4 linked regions of the Homo sapiens genome follow. The protein of the gene in region 1 interacts with the protein of each later gene in a biochemical or structural test. Each region holds a gene or a part of one and is shown on either strand. Other genes may lie near its edges.

The links.
Region 2: the proteins of NCAN (region 1) and TNC interact in far-western blotting, tested with the Homo sapiens proteins (one study listed by BioGRID).
Region 3: the proteins of NCAN (region 1) and TNR form a complex in vitro, tested with the Homo sapiens proteins (one study listed by BioGRID).
Region 4: the proteins of NCAN (region 1) and CNTN2 form a complex in vitro, tested with the Homo sapiens proteins (one study listed by BioGRID).

Annotation. Positions count from the first base shown.
Region 1 is NC_000019.10:19,221,950-19,228,974, forward strand, and holds part of NCAN (neurocan core protein precursor), read left to right. Parts: intron 1-2,071; coding exon 2,072-2,246; intron 2,247-2,356; coding exon 2,357-2,484; intron 2,485-3,027; coding exon 3,028-3,321; intron 3,322-4,536; coding exon 4,537-5,124; intron 5,125-5,331; coding exon 5,332-6,690; intron 6,691-7,025. UniProt on the Homo sapiens protein: May modulate neuronal adhesion and neurite growth during development by binding to neural cell adhesion molecules (NG-CAM and N-CAM). Chondroitin sulfate proteoglycan; binds to hyaluronic acid.
Region 2 is NC_000009.12:115,108,149-115,115,173, forward strand, and holds part of TNC (tenascin isoform 1 precursor), read right to left. Parts: exon of another isoform or gene 6,855-7,025; intron 3,404-6,854; exon of another isoform or gene 3,281-3,403; intron 1-3,280. UniProt on the Homo sapiens protein: Extracellular matrix protein implicated in guidance of migrating neurons as well as axons during development, synaptic plasticity as well as neuronal regeneration. Promotes neurite outgrowth from cortical neurons grown on a monolayer of astrocytes.
Region 3 is NC_000001.11:175,390,580-175,397,604, forward strand, and holds part of TNR (tenascin-R isoform 1 precursor), read right to left. Parts: intron 6,229-7,025; coding exon 5,965-6,228; intron 3,317-5,964; coding exon 3,201-3,316; intron 860-3,200; coding exon 709-859; intron 1-708. UniProt on the Homo sapiens protein: Neural extracellular matrix (ECM) protein involved in interactions with different cells and matrix components.
Region 4 is NC_000001.11:205,038,914-205,046,229, reverse strand, and holds the start of CNTN2 (contactin-2 precursor), read right to left. Parts: upstream 3,019-7,316; 5' UTR 2,836-3,018; intron 1-2,835. UniProt on the Homo sapiens protein: In conjunction with another transmembrane protein, CNTNAP2, contributes to the organization of axonal domains at nodes of Ranvier by maintaining voltage-gated potassium channels at the juxtaparanodal region. May be involved in cell adhesion.

The sequences.
Region 1 (7,025 bases):
GTAGATGCTCAATAAATGACTCAGTGAATGGATTATTGTACAGCAAACATCCCGTGGACTCCTGCTGGGAAACCTGTTTCCCTTAACTTAAATTGACCTTGGGCAAGTCCCTGATTCCTGTCTTGGGGCTTAACCTGCATGCCCCCAAACTGGGAACTGGGGACACAGTGTCTTACCACATAGTTTATGGAGTCAACCAGTCATCCCCTTTCAGAGGCCTCATTTCTGAAAATTGATAAAAGCTAACAACAACAACAACAACAAACTGATTGGTGGTGAGGCAAGTGAATTCCACATCTAGGTAACTTCAATTTCATTCATTCAGCCAAACTCTTTTTGTTGTTGTTTGAGACAGAGTCTCACTCTGTCACCCAGGCTGGAGTTCAGTGGTGTGATCTTGGCTCACTGCACCTCTGCCTCGTGGGTTCAAGCGATTCTCCTGCTTCAGCCTCTGGAGTAGCTGGGATTACAGGTGCACACAACCACACCTGGCTAATTTTTGTATTTTTAGTAGAGACAGGGTTTCACCACATTGGCCAGGCTGGTTTCCAACTCCTAGCCTCAAGTGATCTGCCTGCCTCGGTCTTCCAAAGTGCTGGGATTACAGGCATGAGCTGCTATGCCCGGACATTCAGCCAAACATTTATTGAGCACCTACACTGTACTGGTCCAATGCTGAGGACACAGAGCTCTCAGTTGGATAAGCCAGAGCAAAGTGTTTCATTTCATTGTCTTGTTCAGCCATTTCTTTCATCCCTAAATCAGAATTTGAATCACAGTGAGCCTGTTACCAGGGCTTCACATCCTGGCTTACATGTCACCTCCTCCAGGAAGCCTTCCAGGACCACATTTCCAGGCCAGGCAAGAACCACATTTGGGCCGGGCGCGGTGGCTCATGCCTGTAATCCCAGCACTTTGGGAGGCTGAGGTGGGCGGATCACGAGGTCAGGAGATCAAGACCATCCTGGCTAACATGGTGAAACCCCATCTCTACTAAAAATAGAAAAAAATTAGCTGGGCGTGATGGCAGGCGCCTGTAGTCCCAGCTACTTGGGAGGCTGAGGCAGGAGAATGGTGTGAACCCGGGAGGCGGAGCTTGCAGTGAGCTGAGATCGCGCCACTGCACTGCAGCCTGGCGACAGAGTGAGATTCTGTCTCAAAAAATAAATAAAATAAAATAAATAAAATAAAAAATAAATAAATAAATAAAAAAGAACCACATTTGGTCTCCCATTGCTGCCTGTGCTTCCCTATTAGCGCATGCACTTAATTCCTAAAAGGCAGAAACTCTCTGTCAGCCTTCTCCACACCTCCTGCCACCTCCAGGGCCTAACCCTGGGCATGAAGAGTGCTATCTTTGGAGTCAGATCTCTCTGAATTTGAATTCTGGTTCTGTTTCTTATTTGCTGCGTGGGCCTGGACCTGTCCCTCAACCTTTCTGACCCTAAGTTTCCTCCTCTAGAACAATCAGATTTGTTGTAAGAGTTCAATAAGATAATGCTTATAAATGCTTTTCTTTTTTTTAATGTTTTAGTTTTTTTGAGATGGAGTCTTGTTCTGTCTCCCAGGCTGGAGTGCAGTGGCTCAATCCCGGCTCACCGCAACCTCTGCCTCCTGGGTTCAAGCGATTCTCCTGCCTCAGCCGCCCTAGTAGCTGGGATTACAGACGCATGCCACCATGCCCAGCTATTTTTTGTATTTTTAGTAGAGACAGGGTTTCACCATGTTAGCCAGGCTGGTCTCGAACTCCTGACCTAAAGTGATCTGCCCACCTTGGCCTCCCAAAGTGCTAGGATTACAGAAGTGAGCCAACATGCCTGAACGGCCGTAAACGCTTTTCACATTGTAAATATTTGCTAACTTGTAACCCTTTATGGCCATTGTTATCAGTTTCCTCATCTGTAAAATGGGGGCATATGGATCTTGCTCCCCACCCTCGACCCACACTGTGCCTGGCGCTAGGTCTATTATTATCAGACAGGGGTGGGGAGTCATTCTGCAAGAGGTAGGTCTGTTCTTGAAGATTCCAGCATAAGTCAACTGTCCCCCCATCCTGGATGTTCCCCCACAGGTGTTGTGTTCCACTACCGATCAGCCCGGGACCGCTATGCACTGACCTTCGCTGAGGCCCAGGAGGCCTGCCGTCTCAGCTCAGCCATCATTGCAGCCCCTCGGCATCTACAGGCTGCCTTTGAGGATGGCTTTGACAACTGTGATGCTGGCTGGCTCTCTGACCGCACTGTTCGGTGAGGGGGATACACAGGGCAGGGAGATGAAGACTAGCTCATGGGGAAGGAGGTTCCTTGGGGGCTCCAGGAGCACACATCTGAGAGGGACCCTCCCCTTGTGTTGTCAGGTATCCTATCACCCAGTCCCGTCCTGGTTGCTATGGCGACCGTAGCAGCCTTCCAGGGGTTCGGAGCTATGGGAGGCGCAACCCACAGGAACTCTACGATGTGTATTGCTTTGCCCGGGAGCTGGGGGGTAAGTCTGGGACTGGCAGGACCCGGCCCCTCCGCCTCTCTTTGAGTATCTATTATTCTCCCCAACTCCCATCCTCCGGGGTCCTTATGCAACTCCCCTGTCTTATACCTCCCTAAACCTGCAACCAAGACATGATTCCACTCATTTTCTGAGCTTTCCATGCCTCCCTGAGTCCCCCTCCCTCCCTTTGCCCCCTTCCTCTCTCTGATCCTCTTTCCCTCTCTAATCCCCTGTCCCCTGCCTGCCTCCCTGTCCCTATCCCCTTCCTCCTCTGTGAGCCCCCTTCACCGAGCCCCTCCCTCTCTCTGAAGCCCGACTTGCCCATGGGCCTGAGTTACTCCATTTGTAAAAAGAGGCTTAGCTCTGCATGAGAGGTAAGGACAAGGATGATCCCGGAGCTGGACGCACAGCTGCGGTTGTCACCGCCTCTTCTAACCACCACCCTAACACGTCCAGGTCGGAACTATTTGGAGTTGGACCCACTTCCTGGGCTCCAGGGGAGGGTTCCCCAGCCCCCCTGACCTCCACCCGCCCCTCCCGCAGGCGAGGTCTTCTACGTGGGCCCGGCCCGCCGCCTGACACTGGCCGGCGCGCGTGCACAGTGCCGCCGCCAGGGTGCCGCGCTGGCCTCGGTGGGACAGCTGCACCTGGCCTGGCATGAGGGCCTGGACCAGTGCGACCCGGGCTGGCTGGCCGACGGCAGCGTGCGCTACCCGATCCAGACGCCGCGCCGGCGCTGCGGGGGCCCAGCCCCGGGCGTGCGCACCGTCTACCGCTTCGCTAACCGGACCGGCTTCCCCTCACCCGCCGAGCGCTTCGACGCCTACTGCTTCCGAGGTGCGTGCGTCCCCTGGTGGCCGCGCCCCCAGGGCTTTCACTTTGGCGAAGGCCACGTCCCTGAAAGCCTCGCCAAGCCAAGGGAGAGACACATGGAAGCTCGCTTTGTGATAAGCCACATCCCTGGGTGAGGGCCACGCCCCCGGGTGAAGGCCACACCCGTTACGACAAGTCTTTCCCTAGGAGCCCCGTCCTGGGTAAAGAACAGGGCTCCAGAGGAGGCCACTCTGGTGGGGAGTCACCTTTGCTGGGTGGGCTGTATCTCCTGAGGTCCGGAGGCCCCATAACCTTGAAAGACAAGCCCCTAGGTGGGGCATACTCTACCTAGAGCCACGCCCATACGCAGAAACACCCCCGTGGAAGAGATAATGCCTCAATTGGCCACCTCTGGGCACCACACCGGATGTGGGAGCAGGGATGACACTCGCCCTTGTTGGGGGGCAGTGGGGACAGCTTTGGAAGCTGCAAGCATCAACCCCAAGGAGCCATGTCCTCTAAGTAAGCTGCCCCAGTCCTGGCATGGGCATACCATGCCCACGGGGCACCACCTGTACCAGGGGAGGATCCGTCACCAAGGTTGAGTTGAACCCCTCAACAGGCAGACCCAAGTTCATGAGAGTTGGACACTACCTGAGCTTTGCCCATGAGCCAAATTGTCTTTTTTTCTTTTTTCTTTTGAGACAGAGTCTCACTCTGTCACCCAGGCTGGAGTGCAGTGGTGTGATCTCGGCTCACTGCAACCTCCACCTCCCTTGTTCAAGCAATTCTCCTGCCTCAGCCTTCGGAGTAGCTGGGACTACAGGAATGTGCCACCATGCCCAGCTAATTTTTGTATTTTTAGTAGAGACGGGGTTTCACCATGTTGGCCAGGCTGGTCTTGAACTCCTGACCTCAAGTGATCCACCCACCTTGGCCTCCCAAAGTGCTGGGATTACGGACGTGAGCCACCGCGCCTGGCCCAAATTCTCTTGAGTCCTCACTGCAGCCAGTTGACTCTGACCCTGACAGTGGCTCAGGTGGTCTCCAGCCTGAACAGTGGAGGTGAAAATTTTGCACTTCCCTCTCCCAGGCTGGGGGAATCTCAGAAACTACTTAGGAGAGACAGAGGTACACAGAAGGCTTATGCTGCAGCATGCTGGAAAGTGGGTAGACTTCAAGCAGAACTTCCCAGGCAACCCCTGGGCCTAACACAACCTCTTCTGCTTTCTCCCACAGCTCATCACCCCACGTCACAACATGGAGACCTAGAGACCCCATCCTCTGGGGATGAGGGGGAGATTCTGTCAGCAGAGGGGCCCCCAGTTAGAGAACTGGAGCCCACCCTGGAGGAGGAAGAGGTGGTCACCCCTGACTTCCAGGAGCCTCTGGTGTCCAGTGGGGAAGAAGAAACCCTGATTTTGGAGGAGAAGCAGGAGTCTCAACAGACCCTCAGCCCTACCCCTGGGGACCCCATGCTGGCCTCATGGCCCACTGGGGAAGTGTGGCTAAGCACGGTGGCCCCCAGCCCTAGCGACATGGGGGCAGGCACTGCAGCAAGTTCACACACGGAGGTGGCCCCAACTGACCCTATGCCTAGGAGAAGGGGGCGCTTCAAAGGGTTGAATGGGCGCTACTTCCAGCAGCAGGAACCGGAGCCGGGGCTGCAAGGGGGGATGGAGGCCAGCGCCCAGCCCCCCACCTCAGAGGCTGCAGTGAACCAAATGGAGCCTCCGTTGGCCATGGCAGTCACAGAGATGTTGGGCAGTGGCCAGAGCCGGAGCCCCTGGGCTGATCTGACCAATGAGGTGGATATGCCTGGAGCTGGTGAGTTGCTCTGGGGGAGGCGGGACCTACCTGGGGATCTGGAGGTGAGGGTAGAGAGGTAGCCATGGCTACACTCAGAATGAGGGAGGAAGCTCCAAATCCCAGCTGGGTCCTCTGGCCCCAGAAGCCCCCTCTCCCTTGGGCCTGGAGTCCAACCAAAGGGGCTGCTGAGAGATCATTGTAATGATTGCCTTGATGTTGTTGCAGGTTCTGCTGGTGGCAAGAGCTCCCCAGAGCCCTGGCTGTGGCCCCCTACCATGGTCCCACCCAGCATCTCAGGCCACAGCAGGGCCCCTGTCCTGGAGCTAGAGAAAGCCGAGGGCCCCAGTGCCAGGCCAGCCACCCCAGACCTGTTTTGGTCCCCCTTGGAGGCCACTGTCTCAGCTCCCAGCCCTGCCCCCTGGGAGGCATTCCCTGTGGCCACCTCCCCAGATCTCCCTATGATGGCCATGCTGCGTGGTCCCAAAGAGTGGATGCTACCACACCCCACCCCCATCTCCACCGAGGCCAATAGAGTTGAGGCACATGGTGAGGCCACCGCCACGGCTCCACCCTCCCCTGCTGCAGAGACCAAGGTGTATTCCCTGCCTCTCTCTTTGACCCCAACAGGACAGGGTGGAGAGGCCATGCCCACAACACCTGAGTCCCCCAGGGCAGACTTCAGAGAAACTGGGGAGACCAGCCCTGCTCAGGTCAACAAAGCTGAGCACTCCAGCTCCAGCCCATGGCCTTCTGTAAACAGGAATGTGGCTGTAGGTTTTGTCCCCACTGAGACTGCCACTGAGCCAACGGGCCTCAGGGGTATCCCGGGGTCTGAGTCTGGGGTCTTCGACACAGCAGAAAGCCCCACTTCTGGCTTGCAGGCCACTGTAGATGAGGTGCAGGACCCCTGGCCCTCAGTGTACAGCAAAGGGCTGGATGCAAGTTCCCCATCTGCCCCCCTGGGGAGCCCTGGAGTCTTCTTGGTACCCAAAGTCACCCCAAATTTGGAGCCTTGGGTTGCTACAGATGAAGGACCCACTGTGAATCCCATGGATTCCACAGTCACGCCGGCCCCCAGTGATGCTAGTGGAATTTGGGAACCTGGATCCCAGGTGTTTGAAGAAGCCGAAAGCACCACCTTGAGCCCTCAGGTGGCCCTGGATACAAGCATTGTGACGCCCCTCACGACCCTGGAGCAGGGGGACAAGGTTGGAGTTCCAGCCATGTCTACACTGGGCTCCTCAAGCTCCCAACCCCACCCAGAGCCAGAGGATCAGGTGGAGACCCAGGGAACATCAGGAGCTTCAGTGCCTCCGCATCAGAGCAGTCCCCTAGGGAAACCGGCTGTTCCTCCTGGGACACCGACTGCAGCCAGTGTGGGCGAGTCTGCCTCAGTTTCCTCAGGGGAGCCTACGGTACCGTGGGACCCCTCCAGCACCCTGCTGCCTGTCACCCTGGGCATAGAGGACTTCGAACTGGAGGTCCTGGCAGGGAGCCCGGGTGTAGAGAGCTTCTGGGAGGAGGTGGCAAGTGGAGAGGAGCCAGCCCTGCCAGGGACCCCTATGAATGCAGGTGCGGAGGAGGGTGAGTACAAAGTCCCGGGGCTCTGTCCAGCTCTCCATGGTCAGGGCTTGGGGAGCAGGGGCTGGGGGATCCCAGAGCAGGGAGGAATGGTTGTCCCTGGGGATCTGGAAGCTTTCTAGTGGGGCATGACGCTGGAGGTAGGAGCTTATCAGGTGGAGTTGAATTTCAGAAAGGACATTCCTGGCAGAGGAACGAGCACTGGCAAAGGCCAGGAGATGAAGTAGCGCTTGATCAATTTCGGGCACAGAGCATACATCCCAATGAACAAAGTGTGAGAGTAGTGAGTGGCCGGGCATGGTGCCTCATGCCTGTAATCCCAGCACTTTGGGAGGCTG
Region 2 (7,025 bases), on another chromosome or scaffold:
TGCCTATTTTGTCCCAAGCAGTATGTTTGGATTTTTAGTGCAGATCTAGATGAACAAGAGCAAATTTGCAGTCCCTTTAAAATCTATGAAGCCTTGTGCTCCAGTGAAGAATTTCCCAGACTACGTTGCAAGATGTTTTTAGGTAGATGTCCTATGGTCAGGTATGTTTGGAGATACTGGGCTAACGAAAGTTGAACAGATTAATTACAGCAAGATATCTCAGATGATGCACTCTACTTCCCTGAACCATCCATTGGCTTCTAACCACACTCAGAATGAAATTCAAACTCCTAGCCATTGCCTACAGAGCTCCTTCTCTCATTTCATTCAGACATCTGCACAATGGCACATTCACCTCTCACCCCATCTAAAAGAGCACTCCTCTCACCACCAGTCATTGTTTATGCCCTTACCTTGTTTTGTCTTTCTTCTTAGCAAATATCACTACCTGAAATTGTGCTATAAGTTTATGTGATTCCTTTTTATTGTCTGCCTTCCCCCTGCTATGGTCTGAATGTTTGTGTTCCCTCAAAATCCACACATTGGAACATAATCACCAGTGTGACAATATTAGTTGGCAGAGTCTTTGGGAGGTACTTAGATCATGAGGGCAGAGGCTTCATAAATAGAATTTGTGCCCTTATTAAAAGAGACCCCATAGAGCTGCCTTATGTCTTCTGCCATGTGAGGACATATAAGGTGCCATCTTGATCTTGGACTTCCCAGCCTCCAGAACTGTGAGAAAGTAATTTCTGTTGTTTGTAAGTCACTCAGTTTATGGTATTTTGTTGTAGCAGCTTGTACAAACTAAGATATGCCACCATAATGTAAACACCATGAATAAAAGGATCTTGACTGTATTGCTTTCTATTGTATCACCAGCCCTAAAACTATGTATTGAATGGACATATGAGCTGTGCATTTCCAAGAACAGAAGAGTACCAAGTGTTTCCCAAACTCATTTGGCCACAAAACCCTTTTTTAGGTGATTCCCATGAGAATGCTTTTCCACATGACACACTTTTGGGAACTGCTTCTCTAGTGGGATCTTATCATCAAGAACTATTTGATCAACAGGTAACAAAACAATGACAACAACAAAACATTTATATTGAATGCCAGTTTCTGTGCTAAGCAGTGTTCATGAACTACATCATTTAATCATCACAATAAACTTTAAACTAGGTGCTACTACTTTGCTTTTAATATGGATAAGAAGAAATTAGCTTAAAGAAGCTAAGTAACTTGGCCAAGATCACATAGCAAGCAAATACCTCTCAAACCCAGAGGATTCTTATGCCAAAGTCATACTCTTAACCATTATTCATTTCTTCTTGTGGGCTGTGAGCTTCTCCATGTCCTAAGATAGAGAGCTCTTTGTCTCCATCCCACCCTTGAGCCTGTTCTTTCCTCCTATTAGTTGTTGACTAATCTTTGTTATAACCTCCAGATTTTCAGCTATCTCTTGTGACTCAGCCTCAAATCCCCAGACAGGACTCCTCTGTCCTTGGTACTGGTTTTTCCAAATCCAAAGCAATTTGTGTTTTTATCCTGAAGGCCACCTCTGAAAGCAAACACATTCCTTGAGGTCTGTGTCCTGAGACAGTTTCCTGTCCTAGGGCTGGGATGGTTTCCTCCTATCACATGTTGTGTCATCACACTGCATACTTGCAAGCCAGTGGGTGAAGCGTGAAAACAACTTCAAGCTCTGGGCTTTCTGAGCAAACTGCTAAGGAAGAGGATGTCCAAATCTGGGACACAGCAAGGACTCCTATTAATTGCTAAAGATTAACTTTATTCCAGTTGTGCTAGGTTTCAGATAAACCAGATACAATTTTTTCTTTTAGGAACTATATTGTCAAGAGGGGCAGACAGGCCATTCCAGGATGATAAAGGAGATGATAGATTTAAAAAAAGAAACATAGGTAGAATGAGATGACAGTAAAAGGGCATCTAATTTACCTGGAGGAAGTGGTGCCTGAACTGAATTTTGAGAGAAAAATATGAATAGGTGAAAAACATAAAAAAGGATATTCTAGGCACGAGGGAATGGCATTTACAAGGATATAAAAAGAATAAAAGGGTTGATGTGAACAGTATGAATGACAGCTGAAGTACAGGATCTGTTTAGAGACCAGAAGCAAGATCATGGAGAATCTTGAATGTCAGAATATCTGGACTTTTTTGCAGGCAGAAGAAAAGCATTTGGAAATCTTGAGGCCCAGGAATGTTAACCTCTATGTCTCAGGTTGAAGAAGGGGAAGGCTGGGTTGCTGGGGGCCAGTGGGAAAGCTGTTGCAGTGGCCCATCTGTGAGATGCTAAGATCTGAACTACAGGGGTAATGGAGGTGGGGCAGGGGGTGGTGATCAAGAAAGTGGGGAGGCAGTGAACAGATTTGCTTGTCAAGGCAGTAGAGACTACAACATTTTGTGTGTGGGGTTAGTAAAGAAAAAAGAATTAATCGAAGATGTTACTATTCATTATATCTGCTGAGAGGAATAGATTGAGGGAGGAACAATGGATGAGTTTTAGTTTTGGTCACACTGACTGTCTTGCTTTAGAATAAAATACATTTGGAATCATTGCCGTGAAAGGCCCCTCCCTGGGGTGAAATTCAAGAGAAATTATGGCTAACCAATGAGTTAAAACAACTAATCAAAACACTTGGCTCCACTATATACATGGGAGGATGTTAAATAAAAACTAGTCCACTTTAGTGGCTGCCAGAATTTTTTTTTTTTTTTTTTTGAGACAGAGTCTCACTGTGTTGCCCAGGCTGGAGTGCAGTGGTGTGATCTCGGCTAACTGCAAGCTCCGCCTCCCAGGTTCACGCCAGTCTCCTGCCTCAGCCTCCTGAGTAGCTGGGACTACAGGTGCCCGCCACCACACCCAGCTAATTTTTTGTATTTTTAGTAGAGACGGGGTTTCACCATGGTCTCGATCAATTTTTTTATTACTCATCAGTGAGGGTACTGAAGGGTTGAGTGAACTTGTCATTGATAAGAGGTTGCCAGAAATTGGTGACACTGGAGTGCTGGAGGCTGTGGCAGGCAGACTCTAAGGTGGCCCCATTGATACTGCCTCCCGGCATTCTCATACGTGTGCAATTACCTCCCCTTGAGTGTGGGATGGCCCAGTGACTTTCTTCTAACAAACAGAATATGACTAAGGTGATGGAATATCCCTTCCATGATTAGGTTACACAGGATTGTGATGTGCCTCTTGCTTATAGACTTTCTCTCTCTCTCTCTTTTTTTTTTTTTTTTTTTTTTTTTTGAGATGGAATCTCGCTCTTGTTGCACAGGCTGGAGTGGAATGGCTCGATCTTGGCTCACTGCAACCTACGACTCCCAAGTTCAAGTGATTCTCCTGCTTCAGCTTCCTGAGTAGCTGGGATTACAGGTGCCCACCACCATGCCAGGCTAATTTTTTTGTATTTTTAGTAGATACGGGGTTTCAGCATATTGGCCAGGCTGGTCTCGAACTCCTAACCTCAAGTGATCCACCCGCCTCGGGCTCCCAAAGTGCTGGGATTAAGAGGTGTGAGCGACCATGCCCGGTAACTCTCTTTCTCATTGGCTTTGTTAATGTAAATGGCCTTGTTGGAGAAGCCCATGTGGCAAGGAACTGAGGGTAGCCTTGGACCAACAGCTTTGAAGGAACTGAGGCCCTCAGTTCAATATCTCTCAAGAAATGGAGTCCAGCCAACAACCACATCAACAAGCTTGGAAGCTAATCATCCCCCAATTCAGCCTTTAGATGAGACATCAACCCTGTCCAACACAGACAATAACCTCATGAGAGACCATGAGGCAGAAAATCCAACTAAGCTGTGCTTAGACCTCTAGAAACCATGAGATAATAAATGAGTGTTGATTTAAAGTAATTTGGTATGCAGTAATAGATAATGAATACGGAGATACTAGTCATCCTTGGCTCGGTCCGTGTGAGTTAAGGCTGTTGAGAGAATAAGACTCTGCTCATTTTTCTTTTCTAAAAGAATGTCTTAATTCTGAAACTTTTAAGATTGTCCCTGGCTTCCAAGAGCAAGAGTCAGAAGACCTAGGATTCCAACCTGACCCTGTTGCCAACTGGCGGAAGATCTTAGAAAGATCTTTCCCTTCTCTATGTCTCAGTTTCACCCTCTTTAAAATGAGGTATGCTAACCTAGGCCAGCAATTTACAAAAACATTCTGTTTTTTCTGCACAGAGCCCTTTCATCAAATAAAATTTCATGAGGAGGCTCAGTGTACAAAATAGATAAGTGGAGGGGCTTTCATTGAAATAAGGTTGAGGGGAATCCCCTGCTTGGCCTCCCTGTCTCTCCACAGCAGCCCCCAAATCTTTTTAAATTCTTTTTAAAATCCAGTCTGCAAGATTCTGGCTTAGAGGCTGCCCGTAAGCCCTTTTAGTTTGAAAATTCTGTATTCCCTAAGGAGATTTAAGAAAATAGTAACCTACCTAGAAGTTAAAGCATTCCTCTGCAATATCTGTGCATCGACCTTCACAAGACCATCCCACAGTCCTGGGCATCTCCTTTGGGGACTGTGCTAATGGTGCGTCTGCCCATGGTGGGTCCGTTTTTGGGGAAAATGAACTCCAGCAGACAAAGCTCCCGCCTCCCTAACATTCTTGACCTCAGTGGTGTACAGTCCAGTGTGGCAGGGAAGGCAATCATAGGGGTAATTATGACACAGACAGTGGGGGACGTGCAGAGCTCAGTTGGAACCTGGAGCAGGGGGATTCCAGGCAGCCTGCAGGGCACTCATGGCTTCCCTTGGGCAGCACTTGCTTATGTGTGTCTATGCTTCAGGTCTCAGGCTGGTTGCAGGGATGTGATGTGGATCGGGCTTTGCCCTCATGTAGCTTAAAGTCTAGTAGAGAAAACGTATTACATTATGGGTCACATGCTAATCATTTAATTACAGTTTTTTTCAAGAGGTGAAGCCTGAAGGAGCAAGCTGGAGATAGCAAAATTAACCAGTCTGTCAAAGAACACCAGGGCCAAAAAGACAAGCTTTTGTGTCTTTCTTAGCTTTGCTGTGTCTAGCCCTCTCTCTTGTCAGAAGATGAATAGAATTAGGGAGCTGAGCATGACTTCCTTACTGAAATGGTTATAACTAGCCTCTCAGGACTGGGAACTGGGTTTGATTTTTAACTCCACCAAGTACTTTCTGCATGGTATTGGGTAAGCTACTTAAACGTTTTCAGCCTTACATTGTGCATATTTGAATAGGGTGGGTGATAAGACTTACTAGAAGCTATGGTTGACTAAATGGCATGATGCCTATAGAGTCCTCAGTAAATATTAGCTATTACGATTATCCCCTAGGATTCTCCTAGGAGAACATTTCAGACACATTCTTGTCGAAGTTAGCAGCAGCCAGCTTTAGGGTTAGAGGTGAACAACGGTCAATTCTGAAGCAAAGCTATCTATGTTCAGAACTCATGATATATCTCTGGCTCTTGGTATAGGGTATTTGAGGAGGGTTAAAGGACCAAACAAAGCTATTTAAGTTACCATGGCTATATCATGAAGGACCTATGAACTTCAGGAAACTTCAAAATTCTGAGACGACGTGGCATGAAATACATATTTTTAAAATCTCCATTCACAGATAGACTAAAAATGCACATGGAAGGGATTTTCCGTTCGCGATCTGCTTTTGACTTGGGCATTTTGCTTTTATTCCATGATGAAGGGCCAAAGAGAGTAATGATAGTGACAGGGTTGTTTCTAAAGTGGAAGAGAAGCTGGAAATGTGAGACAAGGTGGAGGGAAAGGAGTTTAGGCTTAAGGGCATAACTGAAAAATGTCTGGCCACCAGGATTAGAATCAGGTTGGTTTGCAGACTTTTCTCCTTTACAGAGAAGTCACAAAGCATGTATAGCCCCCGAAGGTAGGTAAGTTCACCATCTCTGTCTTTTACATTGAATGGAATTATGGCCTGGGGTTTGCAGGAGGCTGGTCATGTCACACTTTGAGGGGGGTTTTCCTCCTTGGAAGGGAGCCTTCATCTAATGTTTCCCACATGTTGAAGGTGTTCAAACTGGCCCGGGATAAGATTCAAGGGGATTCCCTACAATCTTCTCAGAGTGAGAGGTATTTGAATCATAATCTTCCTCTCTGAGGCTTCCGCTGAATTTGTGGCTCAATTTGTGGCTCGGAGCCTACAACCATTTCCAAGCTGTCCTGGGATTCATGGCCCCAAGGCCGATTTCACTTTACCTACCAATCAGCCCTTTTAAAACCAGATGTTTGGCTCACCTGTGTGCCTACTTTTCTGAGATGAAAATCAGCAGGAGTGACCTGACTGCTACCTCTAGTTTCATTCTTCTCTCTTCCAGGGCTGAAATTTGAACTTTCCTGTTTCCAGGCAGAGAGTTGCACCATTGAGAGCTGACCTTTGCTGAGAACCATGAAAAATGATACATGCAGGGCTATTCTGTAAAATCAATAGGCACCAATGCCAGCTGGGGGCTTCTCCACCATCTTGATCATTCACTGAAAGACACCATTTAAGGTTCTAAACTTGGTCAGCACAGCCTGACTTCAGAAGGCAATATAGCACAGCAGAAAGAACAGTGGGGTATTAGTTAGAAAGCTTGGGTCAAAGCCAGCTCTGCCCCTCAATTACGGAAAGACCTCAGATGAGTCACCTAACTTCCTTGAGTGTCGATTTCTTTAAAATTGAGCTAGTAATTTATAATTTGTAGTGTCTGAGTGAGAATGAGATGAGAAACCATTGGCAAACCCTCCTATTACATATGTGACACTATTAACTTTGTGTTTGTGTGTTTTACCATCACAAAAGGACATATATTTCGAGCCAACTAAATGTTTGCAACCTACTTTTTACGTTTCAAACTGAAGTGGCTTCAGCATGAAGGGGGCTGCGCTTTGGTCCAGTGGATATGTTTTCTTGTAAGAAAGCACAGCTAGGTGTCTATAGAAATCTAGAGAGAGAGGAGAGAATATGTGCTCTTAATTTATTGTTAGCATTAGAAAGGGTAGGATTAAGGG
Region 3 (7,025 bases), on another chromosome or scaffold:
CAATTAATGAATCAATCCTGGAAATATAATAATCTTGAATGAGGTGATCTGTGGGATGAAATAATAATAGACTTAAGCCATCACCTTGAACAGTGACCCAACCCATACCTACTTATTTTTGAATGACTTGTTTCCTACCACTTTCACTTCTGAGTATGTTCTGAGTATATGTGCGTATACCAAGTATTGAGCACTCACTCTCATCAGCACAGAGCTGATTGCTTTGTGTGCTTTATCTAATCCCATCCTCATATTAACTTAATGAAGAAGGTATTCTTGTTTATCATAAATTATTCTTGCTTATCTTGTAAAATAAATTGAAGTTTGGGAAGGTTCAGATGACTTTCTCCAAATATCATCATAGGTAAGAATGAGTCAGCTCTTGCTGCTTCCAAAGATCATTGACACCAGAGGCTGACAAATGAGTGTTCTTCATGAGTAAGATCAGCATAAATACAATGGAAATATTAAAAAAGAATTGTCTCCATGAAACACTCTCCCAGATGACAGTATTTGTAAGGATGAGTAATAGGGAAGATGATGAGCTAAGCATCTGGTAGAGTAGCTCCATTGCCAGGTACCAGAATTGTCCCAGCTCTAGGAGAAATTCTAGCACCTCTGTTGTCTCTCCACTCCTTGGGCAATTCTGTGGTTCTTTTCCAAGTGACCTAGTAGGCAGCTCTAGGGAGAAGGGTTGGAGGCACTCACCTGTGGAGACGCTGGCCGAGGTAGGGGGGCTGCGGGCCTGTTCTTTCAGAGCCACCACATTGACAATGTATTCCTCCCCAGGCTTTAGTCCTGTCTGGTTAAAGGACGTAACATCGCTGGGGACCTGAGCAATCACTCCCCCTTCATTGTTCTGGACAGTGGGGAGAAGCAGAGAGCAAAAGAGAAAAGTCACTGGGAGAGAAATCTGATGAGAGAAAGATAAAGGTGTGGAATACTAATTGTGGATTGTGAATTTAAAATGGGGGCGATGTCTCTTTCCTCCATGCTGACAGCTGAGTATCTGGGGCCAGAAATAACTCCCCATAGACTCCATAAGAATGACACCACCCTATGAGGATTTGGCAAATGGAGGATCAATTTTTAAGAACATTTCTTTGGCCACTCCTGAGTTTGCTGAGTTTGCCAATAAAAATTAGTGATGAGGTGGTGCAGATTGGCTCTTGCCAAAGATCAAATGTTTGATGGTTGCGGTTAACATTCATCAGAGGTTTTTGGCATTTATCGTAATGAACATGCCCCCGGCTATTTAGGAGAGGATAGTCATGTGTGTTTGTGTGTAAACATCTTTATATACACACACAACACATTTCAAACTAAGACATTGCTATGAGATAATTGTTTATGAGCCAGAGCTAATATTTTGCTATATCTGGAGTTTCTCATGGTGCTACATTCGGTGTGAATCTGTCGATGTCTTGTTTCCCCTTCACCCAGATGAATTAGGACTCAGTGACACAACCACATATGAAGTACAAAGAAAGGAAAAAGGAAGCTTGGAAAAAGATAATACAAAGAAGAGAAGAAGGAGACAAGAGGGAGAGGGAATGAGAAAGAGTAACTTGACGAAATTGAATCTAGGATTTATTATCTATCTTTCTATCTTATCGTTCCCTCTCTCTCTTTCCCTCCATATACTTTCTATGAGTGTCCTTAGAAATGGAGGAGACAAGAGGGCCTCTTTTGGAGGGCACTGCCATTCTCCCCTATTCTTTGGCCTCTATTTATGGTACCCAGGGTGCCTTATATGTAATTTACAGTCATACTCTTATAAATCAGTGTGATGAATGCTCCCCAGTGGCCTCAACCTACAGATCACAACAGTTATTAAACCATGTGGCCATGCATTTGACCTTGGCATTCCCTGGTCAGCCTCTCTTTTAATTAGAGTTTTACATATTGGGTATAGGTAACAGGAGAACCTGGCGTAATTTTTCTTCCTGAAAAACATTGGTAGCAATGTTCCATTCCAATTGACATGATCGTTTCAATTGTTATGTAACTCAATTGCCACATTTTATTTATCATTTTAACTCAAATAGGACACATTTGTATAGATGTCTGTTTAGATTTATTTACCTTGCTGTGATGTGACTATAATATGACTGTAAATAAGAAAATGGGGCATACAGATTTAGTGAACAGAGCCCCGGGATAGGTGGTGGGGACCCAGGTACTCGTTTTAAGCCTGTCACCAACTAGCTGTATGATGTCCTTCAAGTTTTCTGAATCGTAGTGTCTATAAATTAAACTAAACTAGATGTAAAATGAGGGGTCGTACCTGTGAACTTGAAGGTCTTTTGTAACTCCAACAGTTCACAGCTCTAAGAATTTTGAAGTAAAAGAATGGTGAAATCATGGTCTTGTTAGCCAAAAATGTGTCATTTGTCATTAAGTCTGATGAATGGCTAAAAAATGTTCTTTGATGTTGAAGAATAAAGACAGAGGGAAGGAGTATAATTGAACTTTATATCCTCATGAGTGGTACAGTTAGGGAGGACATTGGTAGGGTCAACAAATTCTGGAAATTTAGAGCCAGGCATACACCTGTGGCAATTCGGAAAAGTTAGTTTTAGAATTAAGAAAATAAATAAAATACTGCTTTAGAGAGTAGAAAGGAATCTTAGGATACTTTAAAAGTCATAGACTAATAAAAAAGTTGCTAAATTAATAGGATACAAATGTATTATGAATAATCCAGGAGAGCCAAGGTGTTTTGTTTTATGTCTGTAACCTTTAGGGATTGATGCCATGCAAGCTGACTTTTCTGTGGTGCATCTGTCTGCACAGAATGAAGCTTTTGGCTGATTATGTGATGGATTCAGCCTGGCTTTTCTTATGTCCTAAAGAGAAGCCTCAATTTTTTCAGGGTCTGGTTTTCATGCTCACCAAAACTATGGCTCATCAGACCCCAGAGTTATCTCAGCAGAGAGCTGGAGCTGGTGGCTGCTTCCCACATCCTCTGTTCTGCAAGGCCAGGGTGCCATGCTCAGGGCTACTCTTGTCAGCAGGTCGTTACCACATATTTGTCACAGAAATGTTCTATATCCCAGACACCCACAACATGCCATTTTGTGTCTTTAATGGCATGGAGAGAGATATTGGGTAGCACTTTCCTTGCTGCCCCTGATTCCAAGCTAAAGGTACAAATATTCCAAATAAGTCTGTTTGGCAGTGTAACAGGTGAGTGTTACCTTTGGAATGAAGCTGATTTCCCACCCATCGAAGGAAAATGAGAAGGGCTCCCACTGCACCTCCACGGTGGTCTCTGTGATCGTCTTAAATTGTAGCCCTTGAGGAGTGGAGAGATCTGGAACACAGCAATGTAGGTGACAATGTCATGGCTAACCCTTGGGACAGACAGCATTGCCTGGTGCTTTGTCTTGGTGAACTCCCTCCACGCCATGGGCGTGGTGGTGTCTGGTGGACAATCCCAATCTTGCTCCAGACACAGTGAGTCCCAGGTGCAGAATCAACCCACCCCATGTGGCTCTAGTGCTCGATGTTGATGGAATACATGAGTTAACTTAAACACAATCTATATAAACAATTTTTAATGCTTTTTATTGCATTAATAGGTTACTATTAAAATGCAGACATCATTTTTCTTTTCTTACTAATGTGGTAGATCTTGGCATATCATATATAGTACAGTGCCTTTTTCAGAGGACTTGAGCAGTATCTTTAGAAGCTTTACAGGACTCCCGGGAGGTACTATGATGGCTTCTATCAGTGTTCTCATTTTGCACACAGGAAAAGAGAGGCACAGAGAAAGCTGGCTAAAGTTGTGGAGCAAACCAGTTTCAGAATTAATACTAGAGTGATTTCCTTGATCATCTGATGCACATTGAGAGTATTTTGTTTAGCTCAAATCACTAAGTCTAGGATGGTCTGAATTTTTCATTTCATGTATCTCCCTCTTTTCCTCCCACCACCCCTTCTCCCCCAACCACACAGTCACATACACATGCACAGGTTTTGTGAGATGGAAGTGTGCTTGTCCTAATGGAGTTTCAATTATCAGCCCTGAAATATGACAGCATGACTTTTCTCAGTTCTCCAGGAAGCCTGCTCCCATTTTAGCTTTGCCTCTCATGGGCTATTCCCATTGGAAAAAGGACAGATTTTCTCATCCTTCCTGTTTGGAAGAGTTCTCATGCTTCTTGGTTGGAAGGCAGGGCTGACTGCAAGCCCACTTGAAGTTGTGTCAGGTGGTTTACATGATTTTGTCCTTGTCACCTGGGAGCTTGCCTGAGGGAATGCCCTGAATTGGCATAATAAATGCCACAGGAGATGGAAACCTCATCACTGTGCATGCATGTGGATCAGAGAGGAGACGCTTGGGAGTTAGGCCAGGCACTTAGGGTGGTGACTCATCCCGGAGCAAGGTGGGAAAAGCGGCAGATGGTGACCTGCCTCTCTGCACAATCATTGCAGATATTTAAAACCAGTTCTCAGGCACCAGAGGATTTTTTTTTTAAAAAAAGGTCAAATATAAACAGAGATAATTATAGGCATATTAACAGAGTCAGCACTCTTCTCATAGCGGAGTCCAAAATTATAGCAGAATTTCTGTCACCTGAAAAGCAAGGGGACAAGATGACTTCTTAAATTCCTTCCCCTCTGCCTGTCTCTATCCTTGCATCCTTCAAAGGTCAATTCAGTCCTGGAGCTTCCATGAAGATTTCAAGGCTAAATCTTTCTACCTTGACCTTTTCCTTTTCTGAACTTTCGTGGCATTTGTTACCTGAATACCATCTACCTACACAAAATGGGCTCAGATCTCTTACCCCTTATCTGGTGGTAAGTCCTATTTACTGGCCCGGGGGCTTTCTGAATTCTAGAGGGCTTATGTTTTCATGGTTACTTCTTGTTCCACTTTCTTGGTATTGCTAAAAATCTCTGTATCACTCATACCTCATCTCCTTTGAATGTTCTCTTCTCTCTTCCCAGATTTTAATCAGATACAGCCCCTTTTTCATGATCTCTCCAAAGACTTTCCACATAAGGCACAGAGGCATTTGTGTGCATGCAGGTTTTGCAGTAGACTTGGGGTGATGAGAACTTCTCTTGCCTAAATTATTCTGCCTGGCTTTTGAAATTCTAAACTAAAACAGGCTTATTGTATCAATTTAAGAATTCAGAGGGGTATAAAGAAAAATATAATAATTATTTCCTATCTCCTTCTTATTCTACTCTGTGATGTAGTCAGTGTTAATAATTGTTATGTAATCTTTTATATTTTTCTATGCTTGAACATACACAAAATATAGGTACACACCCACAGAAGTTTCCCTTTATGTATAAAAAAAACTGTTCATTTCTTATGGAGAGCAGTTTAGATTGCTTTCTGTCTCCATCTCTCTCTTTCTTCCCTGTGAATCCTTCTAAATTATGCTCTAGGGCTTCAACTTTTATAACTAAAATGAACTATTAAGATATTTCACTAAACAAAAGACCAGGAGGAAATTATGCCACCTCTCTATCAGGAGAAGGGGATGTTGTCAGCTGTGGTTTTAAATAAGATTTTTTTCTCACTTTGCTATACACTTATGGTCGAGAACACACCATTTAGCACTTGCTTCTTAGAGGTCCTAGTTCATATCTCCTTGTTTTGGATCCCTAACTGATTCAAAGTCTGTAGATGTCTTACACTTTCCTTGACTTCTAGTCAGAGTCTAGCTTATAACAAGCCAGTACTCCATAATTAAAGTACTTTTTGTCCTTTTGGTTCTATAATTTATGAAAGCTGCCTGAATTTGGAAACTCTCTTAATCGAAAGTGCCTTTTTAATGATGTACCCTTTCTAAATGGGTCACATCTCTAGCCCTTCCCCTCAAGGGCAATAACTATTCCAGGCATCCCTGAAGAACTAAGAAAAGACGCTACTATCATGAATGCCCATGATCTCATGTAGGAGAAAAGAAAAATGAAGCAGGACGGGGAAATGGTACGTACGGGTGGCCACCTTGGCAGTGATGGGAAGGCTGAGGATGTTGCTAATGACAGCGTAGACGCTGATGTTGTAGGTGAGACCTGGCTCCAGCTCCGTGATGGTGACACCACTCCAATCTCCAGGCACCCGCTGCTGGAGCTGGAGGCCCCCCAGGGCCGTCGGCTGGTAAGAGATCACATATTCCGTCACTGCCATCGGCCCGTCCCATTCCAGCTCAATGGACCTGTCGCTGATACCAGCCACTCGCAAGTCCTCTGGAGGGGCAACTACCGGGAGGCAATACACAGATAGCATGAGCTCAGAGGATTGCCTTCCCCATCCTGGACTCAACTTTCTTCCTCACATCTCACCCCCCATGCCATGTCTATATGTCCTGCTGGGCTCAATGGCTTTAAGTGATTTGTAACTTCCTTTGTGAGCAGGCTCTTGTCTTTTTGGTGCTTAGTACCCCAATCTCTATAAGGTCATGAACATGCACTGGAGCCAGCTCCTACTGGCTTGTAAATGCTGATTGTCAAATTTTCAGGACTGTTTCAAGACTGTCGTTGAATACAGCCATTATTAAAGATTCAATTTTATAACCTAATACTTAAGTAAATTATATTAAAAATAAAGGTAATAGATATTCAAAATTTATCACTCTCAAATTATTTGACTACATTTTACTATTATGTGTACCTTTAAGATAATTTATGTGTGCTCTGTCTGGTGAAAATATTCTATGATTGTACTCTACTACACATCTGTTTCCAGCTCCATGTTTACTGACGTCATGTTGGTAATTGAAATTGGCCATGGAGAGAGTATTTACATCATGGAAACTGGCAAATGCTACACAACGGGGCTTTTAAATTTTTTTCCTTTAGGGAGCCAGGTTGTTAGGTATTTAACAGCACACCACTGGCCAACATTTTTGGTGGTTTAATAAGTTATCGTCATCAGATTACCCTGGGAGCCAATATCTGATTTGGCAAGTGGAAATAAAGACTCATTCCTGATTATCTTGCAAATTATGAGAAGCCAAAACAGTAAGTCCTGGATACCACGGCCTGATGAAGACACT
Region 4 (7,316 bases), on another chromosome or scaffold:
CTTTTGTTTGCATTCTCTTTGGTAAACAAAGAAACATGGGCTAATCTTGTAGCAAGGAATCATCAAACTAAGAAAGGACTTACTCTAGGATGGTTACCGTCAGGATACGGAGCCCACAGAAACTCCCATAAATGTTCCAGGTTAGCAACAGCCTCTGGGTGGTTTGTTTAGATTGGGGTTGTAGTCCTGAAGGATGAGGGGGTGGCCAGCATGCATGAGGGGATGAAAAGGATGTCTGCCTTCTTATGGATTCCTGAGTCACATCCACCTTTTACCATTTGAAAGAGGATTACTAGAAGTTGGAAGAAATTTACAGGGTCAGCCAGCCCAACCTTTGCCTCTAGGCAGGACTCTCTAACCTTGGACCAGACCCCAGTTCTCCACACCATCCTTAGAGTCATCTGAAAGGAGACTGCCCCACCTCCTCATGGCTCACTCTTCTAGCCAGGAAGTGTCTCCTGCAGTCTAACTTAAGTCCCTCTGGCTTCCCTGGCATATTCTTTGCTCTGGTTCTTCCTCCCCTGCATATCAATCACCTCTTCTCCAACCCCCTGGTTCTGCCCTAGGAATCCCTCCAAAAATACAAATACCACCCACACTCAGGCTTAGAGATTGTCTTTGAAATACGCTTTCTCACCAACGTTTGGCTCAAGGAGGTTTCTGAAGAGGGCACCATGCATCCTCCAAACCACCCCAAATGCGTTGCTTCCCTGGTGACTTTAGAGGCAGAAAGGATGCCTTGGGGTACACCTGTCTATGTACATGCTCCTAAGGAGTAAGTTTGGTCAGCCAGAGACGAGATGTGCAATCACCCCGTTAAGCACAATTCCTCGGAGGCCCATCCCACATGTGTCTCTATTTGAACAACTGCTGGCAGAGAAGGTGCTGGAATGGAGTTGCATAAGGAGTGAAATCTGGCAGGGGAAATGGTGGCGGCGGGAGGCTGAGGGCTGAAGCCGGTGGAGTACACGCGATGAGAGAAGGGAGTGCGAGGAAAGAAGGAGTAGAGGAAGGGAGGAGAGTAAGAGAGAAAGAGCCGGGAATGAGAGCAGACTCCTGGAGTCTGAGGCACTCATCTGCATAAGGAGTGTGCCTCTGCTTCCCTCACCGCTCATGGTGTGAGCACAGTGGTCTCTGCACCTGTGAGGCAGGTGGACCTTGGGTGACTTTGACATCATCAGGTCAGGGGCCCTTTCCTGTCTGTCTCACCTCCTGCCTCCCTCTTATTCGCTGAGGACTTCCACGGGAGATTAGGAAGGACTCTGACCTTGTGGCAAAAGCCCTGTCCATGGTTCTGCAGCTTGGCTAGAAAGGGGTTAACTGGTGGGCACCCTGGGGAGGGGCTTGGATGCTGCTGTCTTTAAGGGGAGAGCTCCCTTCTCCCAAGGCCAGGAGTGAGGGCACCTGTTGTGACCTCCAGGCCATCTCCCTGTCCAGGTGCGATCACAGCAGCCTCTCCCACAGGTGGCCCACCTTTTGCTGCACTCGATCTCCAGTGGCTCATCCGGCCCCTCTGAGTGGGACCAGGAGGTAGAGAGACTCGGAGGCTAAGTGAGCTGAGGCGTCTTTGGCCAGACGGTTGGGAGAGGAGGCCGAAACTGTTGCCCAGACGAGACCAGAACATCACCTGTGCACTGGGTTTCTTGGGCTGTTCCTCCTCCCAGCTCCTTCTGAGCAGAGGGAAAAGATGCTGAAACCCACCTTTCTCCAGGGCTGGGGCCATGGCATGCACAACCCCACTCCCTCCTGGCCTCACTGGACCCCCCCCCCCAGGACACAGGCTCAACCCCCAGGGGTCTGGGGCTAGAGGGTGCCCGTCTCCATCCCCAAGTAGCAGCAGGATTCTCCCCTTCCATAGGCACTGCCTTCTCCATGCCCCGCTGCTTCCCAGACCTGAGAGACCCTCTTGGAGAAGGTGACAGGATTCAGCTCTGGACACTCACTGGCTGGGGCTGCCCCCCACCTCCAGCCCATTATGTAAGCCCCACGGTGCTGGGCAGAAGGATTGCCCTCTCTTTCCAGAACTCCCCAGCTCTGCCCCTTCCCTTCCCCATACCATTCTGGCCCCAGCCCCTTTCCTTACTGGAAAGCCAAACTTTGTGCAAATTCTTCCCTCCCACCAGTGAGGATGGGGGGGAGGGATTTGAGGAGAAGCTAAGGTTGGGAGGGGGAAGGGAAGGAAAGGAATTTCAGCCCGGTAGCCCCAGCCTCTCGCCCTTTGGGATGTGACTGGCCTCAGGACTCTCCTCCCCGAGTCCCAGTTCCTGGACAGGCCCTTGCCCAAACTTGTGCTCCACTCTCCCCTCTCTCTTCCACAGCCCCCCTCTCCATCCAGCTGAAGCAAGACTTTGCAAAGAGGTCACCCTGCAGAGGTAGACCCTGGGTGACCTCAAAACTGGGGACTCCGGCTCAATTCCATGCAGGGACTTCTGGGGCAGGCCAGGGCCCAGGGCCTGGCTGTATGGACTGGTCCTGTCCTGGACCGGGTGCCCAGGGCCGGCCCAGGAGAAACTGCCCTCTCCACAGGCAGCTGCCACTGCCCGCTGGCCAACTGGAATTCCTGGACACACTCCTGGGGTCCAGCTTTTCGGCCAGGCTCGGCCTGAGAGAGCCCTGCGGGATGCCGCCCACGTAGACAGGGCGGAGGGGAGCCCCAGCACCCACCCTGGGGCTGAGGGGAGAAGTCAGAACGGCCCCAGCCTGCCAGTGTTCCTGTCCCTGTTCCCTCCCAAGTTACAAGGGGGATATTTACAGGAACTGAGCCGGGAGCCCCGGCCCATAACAGCACGCAGGGAAGTCCCTGGGTTGGAGGAGACAAAAGCGGTTGGCACCTACCTGGGGCGAGAGAAGGGTGTTGGCTGGGGCAGGTGGATGCTGCCCGAGTCGGTGAGCCGGGGCCGGCCGGGCCGCCAGCCCCTGTCTGGGCCGCTGTCCTTTGGGCCCTGGCGGCCTCAGCCGCTCGCTGTCCGGGTGCGGCGGCGGCCGCGGCGGCGGTGGCGGGTGAGGGCGCGTGTGTGTGAGCGCGCCCGGAGCCACTGCAGCATCTCTGCATCAAGATGTGCTCCTCCCTCTCCCAGGCTCCGCTCACTGGCTGGCTCTGGTCCTCAGCCAACGCTCGGGGGCCCTGGAGATGGCTTCCTTCTGCCCCCCTCCCACCCCACTTCCGTCCCCACCCTCCTGGCTTTACCTCATTTGCTGTCATTTAAGGACCAGGGAGCGAGCCCAGCGCGCGTCTTCCATAATGCATGGGCCGCTCATGGACAGGCCGCGGGGCGCTGTCTGGCCCGCCTGCCCTCCCGATCCTGCCCAGCCCCACTTCTAGTCCCCCTGCCCAGGGCTGAAGGGGCAGGAGAGGGGCGGGGTGAAGAGGGAAAAGAAAGTGGCTCTTACTCCTCAAACCCTGGAGACCCATGGAGCCAAAACTCCTGGTTTCCCCAGAAATCCCCTATCCGAGGAAGAGATCCAAATCAGAAATCCCAGCTTGCTGTGTGGGGCAAGTGGCAGGGAGGGGCTGTCTCTGTTGCCCGGTCCACCCCATGTTCCTCTTTATTGTTTCCCTTGTTCAAAAGTAGTTTGAGCTTTTTGTCAAAATATCTAAATATTAGAGGACATTTAAAAATACATAGTGAAAGTCCCTCAACCACTACTCTTAATAAATCTAAGTACATGCCCCCAGGTTTATTATTTTCGTGTATACAATTACATGGGTTAGTAGGGTTATTTCACACAAATGTGATTACATAAAACAGTAGGATTGGCCAAAGACTTTTAACTGTGTAACTGATCTTGGACACTTTTACGCATCAGTACGTTTGGATCCAATCCCATTTTTAAGCAACCAGCAGTGTGATGTCATGAAAAGCTCCCTGGATTAGGGGTCTGGGTGTCTGAAGCATACTCTGGGCTCCACAACCGACTGGCTGTGTGTGCTTGGCTAGGTGCCCTGCCCTCTCTGAGCCTCGCTGGTACCTGAAGGGATTAAAGATGGACACAGTCCTGCCAGCTCTGAGATTCTAAGTGCTCACCCTTGTCAGCGATGCCTTTCTCCTGCCCTGCTCCGGTCACGTGGGGGAGTGCCCAGGAAGGCTGTGGCCCGGAGGCGGAGGGACCAGCCATCTGCGGCACCAGTCGGCCCTGTCAGGCTGTCACTGTTGTCTCACCCCCCTCTGATCTGCCTGCTGTCCAGCTTGCACAGGCAAGACCGGTGAGCAGTCCAGATGCTGCAACAGCTGGCAGGGCCAGGCCAGCCTCCCAGTTTTAAATGGCTATACCTGTCAAGCCTGGATCATGGCTCCATGTCTCCCTGAGTGGAGGAGGTCCTGGGGACCTGGGCCAGAATGAGAGGGTCTGGAAAAGGAGAAGGAGTCGGGGAGGTTCTGCTGCTCAGCCTCCAAGGCTGGAATGTCTGCCCAGGTCCCACATGCGCTCCCCTCCTTTCCTTCTGAGCCCCTCCAAAGGGCTTGCCCAACTTGAGAGATAGTCTTCTTTGTTCCTGATGGGGAGGACTTGGATTTTGCTAATGATGTTTCTTAAATAATGTTGAATGCTGTTATATAGACAGACACATCAACCCCTTGCCAGGATATCTTTCCCTTCCTTCCCCTGCCCACACTGTCCTTGCCTATCTGTATGTCTGAGGGCTGGCACATTGGCTCTGAGCTCCTGAGGTGAACCTTGCTCTTTGGCACCATTCAAGTCAGCCTGGGCTCCAAAGAGAGGCTCTGCAAGTTCTCTCCTAGCAGAAAACGGCAGGAACAAGTCCTTGCCAAGAAAAGGATGCTATGTCTGCTGCAGGGGGCTGACGGGCCAGGAAATAGGCTGGCCCAGGAACCAACAGTCTGGAAATGCTTGCAAGGATTGCTTTAGACGGAGACAGCTGTCTTTGTGACTCTATTTTAGGACAGCTGCTGCCCTGTGGTGGGAGCTGGGTCTCTGGGGAGGGTCGTTAGCACAGGTGACTTGGGTCTTAAAGACTCTCAGATCTCAATGCAACCAGCATGCTCCATGTGGACTCTGGCAGACACAATAAGTGAAAACAAGAACATTTGCCAAGCCTAGACTTGGATGGGGAGACAGTTCCCAAAGTCTCATCTTCTCACTTGTCTGAAGCTCTCAGTGAAGTCTAGTATGAATGAGTTTGGGGAGATTAGGGGGATCTGCACTCCCAGTCTCTGAGATGCTCCTGTTCCTGAGGAGAGAGTGGGGTGGGCATTTGGGGGTGCAGGCTGAGTTTTGCTTGTGGGGCCCATTAGCTTGATAATAACAGAAATAATATCTGTTTTGAATGCCTCCCACATGCCGGGAGCTGTGCTAAATGCTTTACCTGAATTACTTGCGCAAGAGGTCCATGTTGTTATTATCCTCACTTTTCAGATGTTGCTCAGTAAGAGTAAGGAACTTGCTCAAAAGAAATAGTAAACAAGTGGAACCCTGGGCAACGTGGCGAAACCCCGTCTCAACAAAAAACACACAAAAATTAGCCAGTGTGGCAGTGCACACCTGTAGTCCCAGCTACCTAGGAGGCTGAGGTAGAAAGATCACCTGAGCCTGGGAGGTTAAGCCTGCAGTGAGCTGTGATCGTGCCACTGCACTCCAGCCTAGATGACAGAGTGAGGCCTGGGATCGGCCTCCAGCATCCTGGCTTAGCCACCGTGCCATGGACTCCAGCTACCTACTGTCTGTTCTTTTGAGGTGGGCAAAATAGGGGGCAGAACAGTTTCTTCTTCTTTGGTGACATCCAGAGCCCACAATCTTCAGTGCAGCTGACCATAAGGGCCACCTCTCCTTTCTGTGGCTGATCAATATGACTCCATGTTGTCCAGAGCTGGGACTCCACATCTCAAAGTTGAGTCCCCACAGACTTTCAAACAGGGCAAGAAAGGGCCAGTGAAGATAATCAGGTGGCTAGTCAAATGGCTTATAAATTTGTCCGCAAACATGTGGTGCTCCCTTGGTGGTGGTGGGTGGGGATCAGAAAGCATTTTGAGGGCCACCCAACCCTGCCCAGACCATCTGCTTCTTCCTACTGTAGCCACACAAGATTGATAGCAATGGAATCCAGTGGGTCTCTAACCGATCAAGAAGGGACCTCTAGGCCCCATCCCTGGGGACAAGTGGGGAGGAGATGAGACCCTGCCATGGCCCCAGGATGCTGCAGCTTTGCTGTCTCTTTCCTCACCACTCCCCCGCCTCACCTCTCCTTTCCTGGCCTCTCCCGCCACCAGCATCTTTGCCCAGACCCTTTTCCCAGGAGGCCATGTATTTATGGAGCAGCTCCTCTGCCTGGAATGTAGGGATCCAAGAGCCAGGGGATGCGGTCTTCAAAGTGCCAGTGACCTTTTTGGAAGCAGTGTGACAGTGGTAACAGGACTGTCCATCCACAGCTCTGGGGAAAACTGATATGGCCATAAGGAAAAGCTCTGCAGACAGACCCGTTTGACACCCAGTCCTGCTACTGAGGAGATGTGAGGCCATGGGCAAGCCACATACCTCTTCACCCAGAATATGGGGATGAAGACACATACCTCACTGAGTTGATGTGAGTGTTGAGTTACACGTGAAGTAGCTAGCACAGCAGGTGCTCAATAAATGTCAGTATTTCCCTTTTGGGATTTAGCCTCCCTCATCTGTAAAACAAGGATATGAGGCAGAGCAGTAAGGGCTGCAAGTGGTTGGGGTGGCTCTGGATTTGTAGTCAAGAGAACTGGACTCTGTCCCAGCTCTGTCACTCCTACCTGGATGACTCTGGGCAAGTAACAGAATGACACTTAATCGCCCAGATAATCCATTTCTTCACCAGTAAAATAGGAATGATCCTACTCCTATCTAGGATGGTAGTGAGGATATGTGAATTAAACATAATGGTTTTTAAAAGCACTTTGAATTGCAAAGTGCCATATCAAATACTGATGGCCATTCCCTCAGCTATGCAGTCCAAAAGGTAGGGATTATCTCATCAGTCCGTATTCTCCCAGTCCCCCACCCTCCTGTTTAGCACAGTGCCTGGTGCATGGTGGAGACTCAATAAATATTTGTTGACTGGGTGAATGAATGAAGGAGAGTAGCTATAGTAACCATTCAGAGGATGAGGAGAGAGGGAGGTAGGATGTGGGTGAAGCTTTCAGTGGGGGTGGGTGGGTGCATCTTGAATTGAGCCTGGATGGACAGAGAGGAGGTGGGGAATGTGTTTCTGGCATGGGGGCATGTGGTGTGGCAGGAGCCAAGATGTGGGGCCTGGGAAGGCCATGATTTGTGTAATGCCTGGAGAAGCCAAGTTGACCTAGCAGGGGTGCTGGAAGGAAGATCTCAATGCCCTG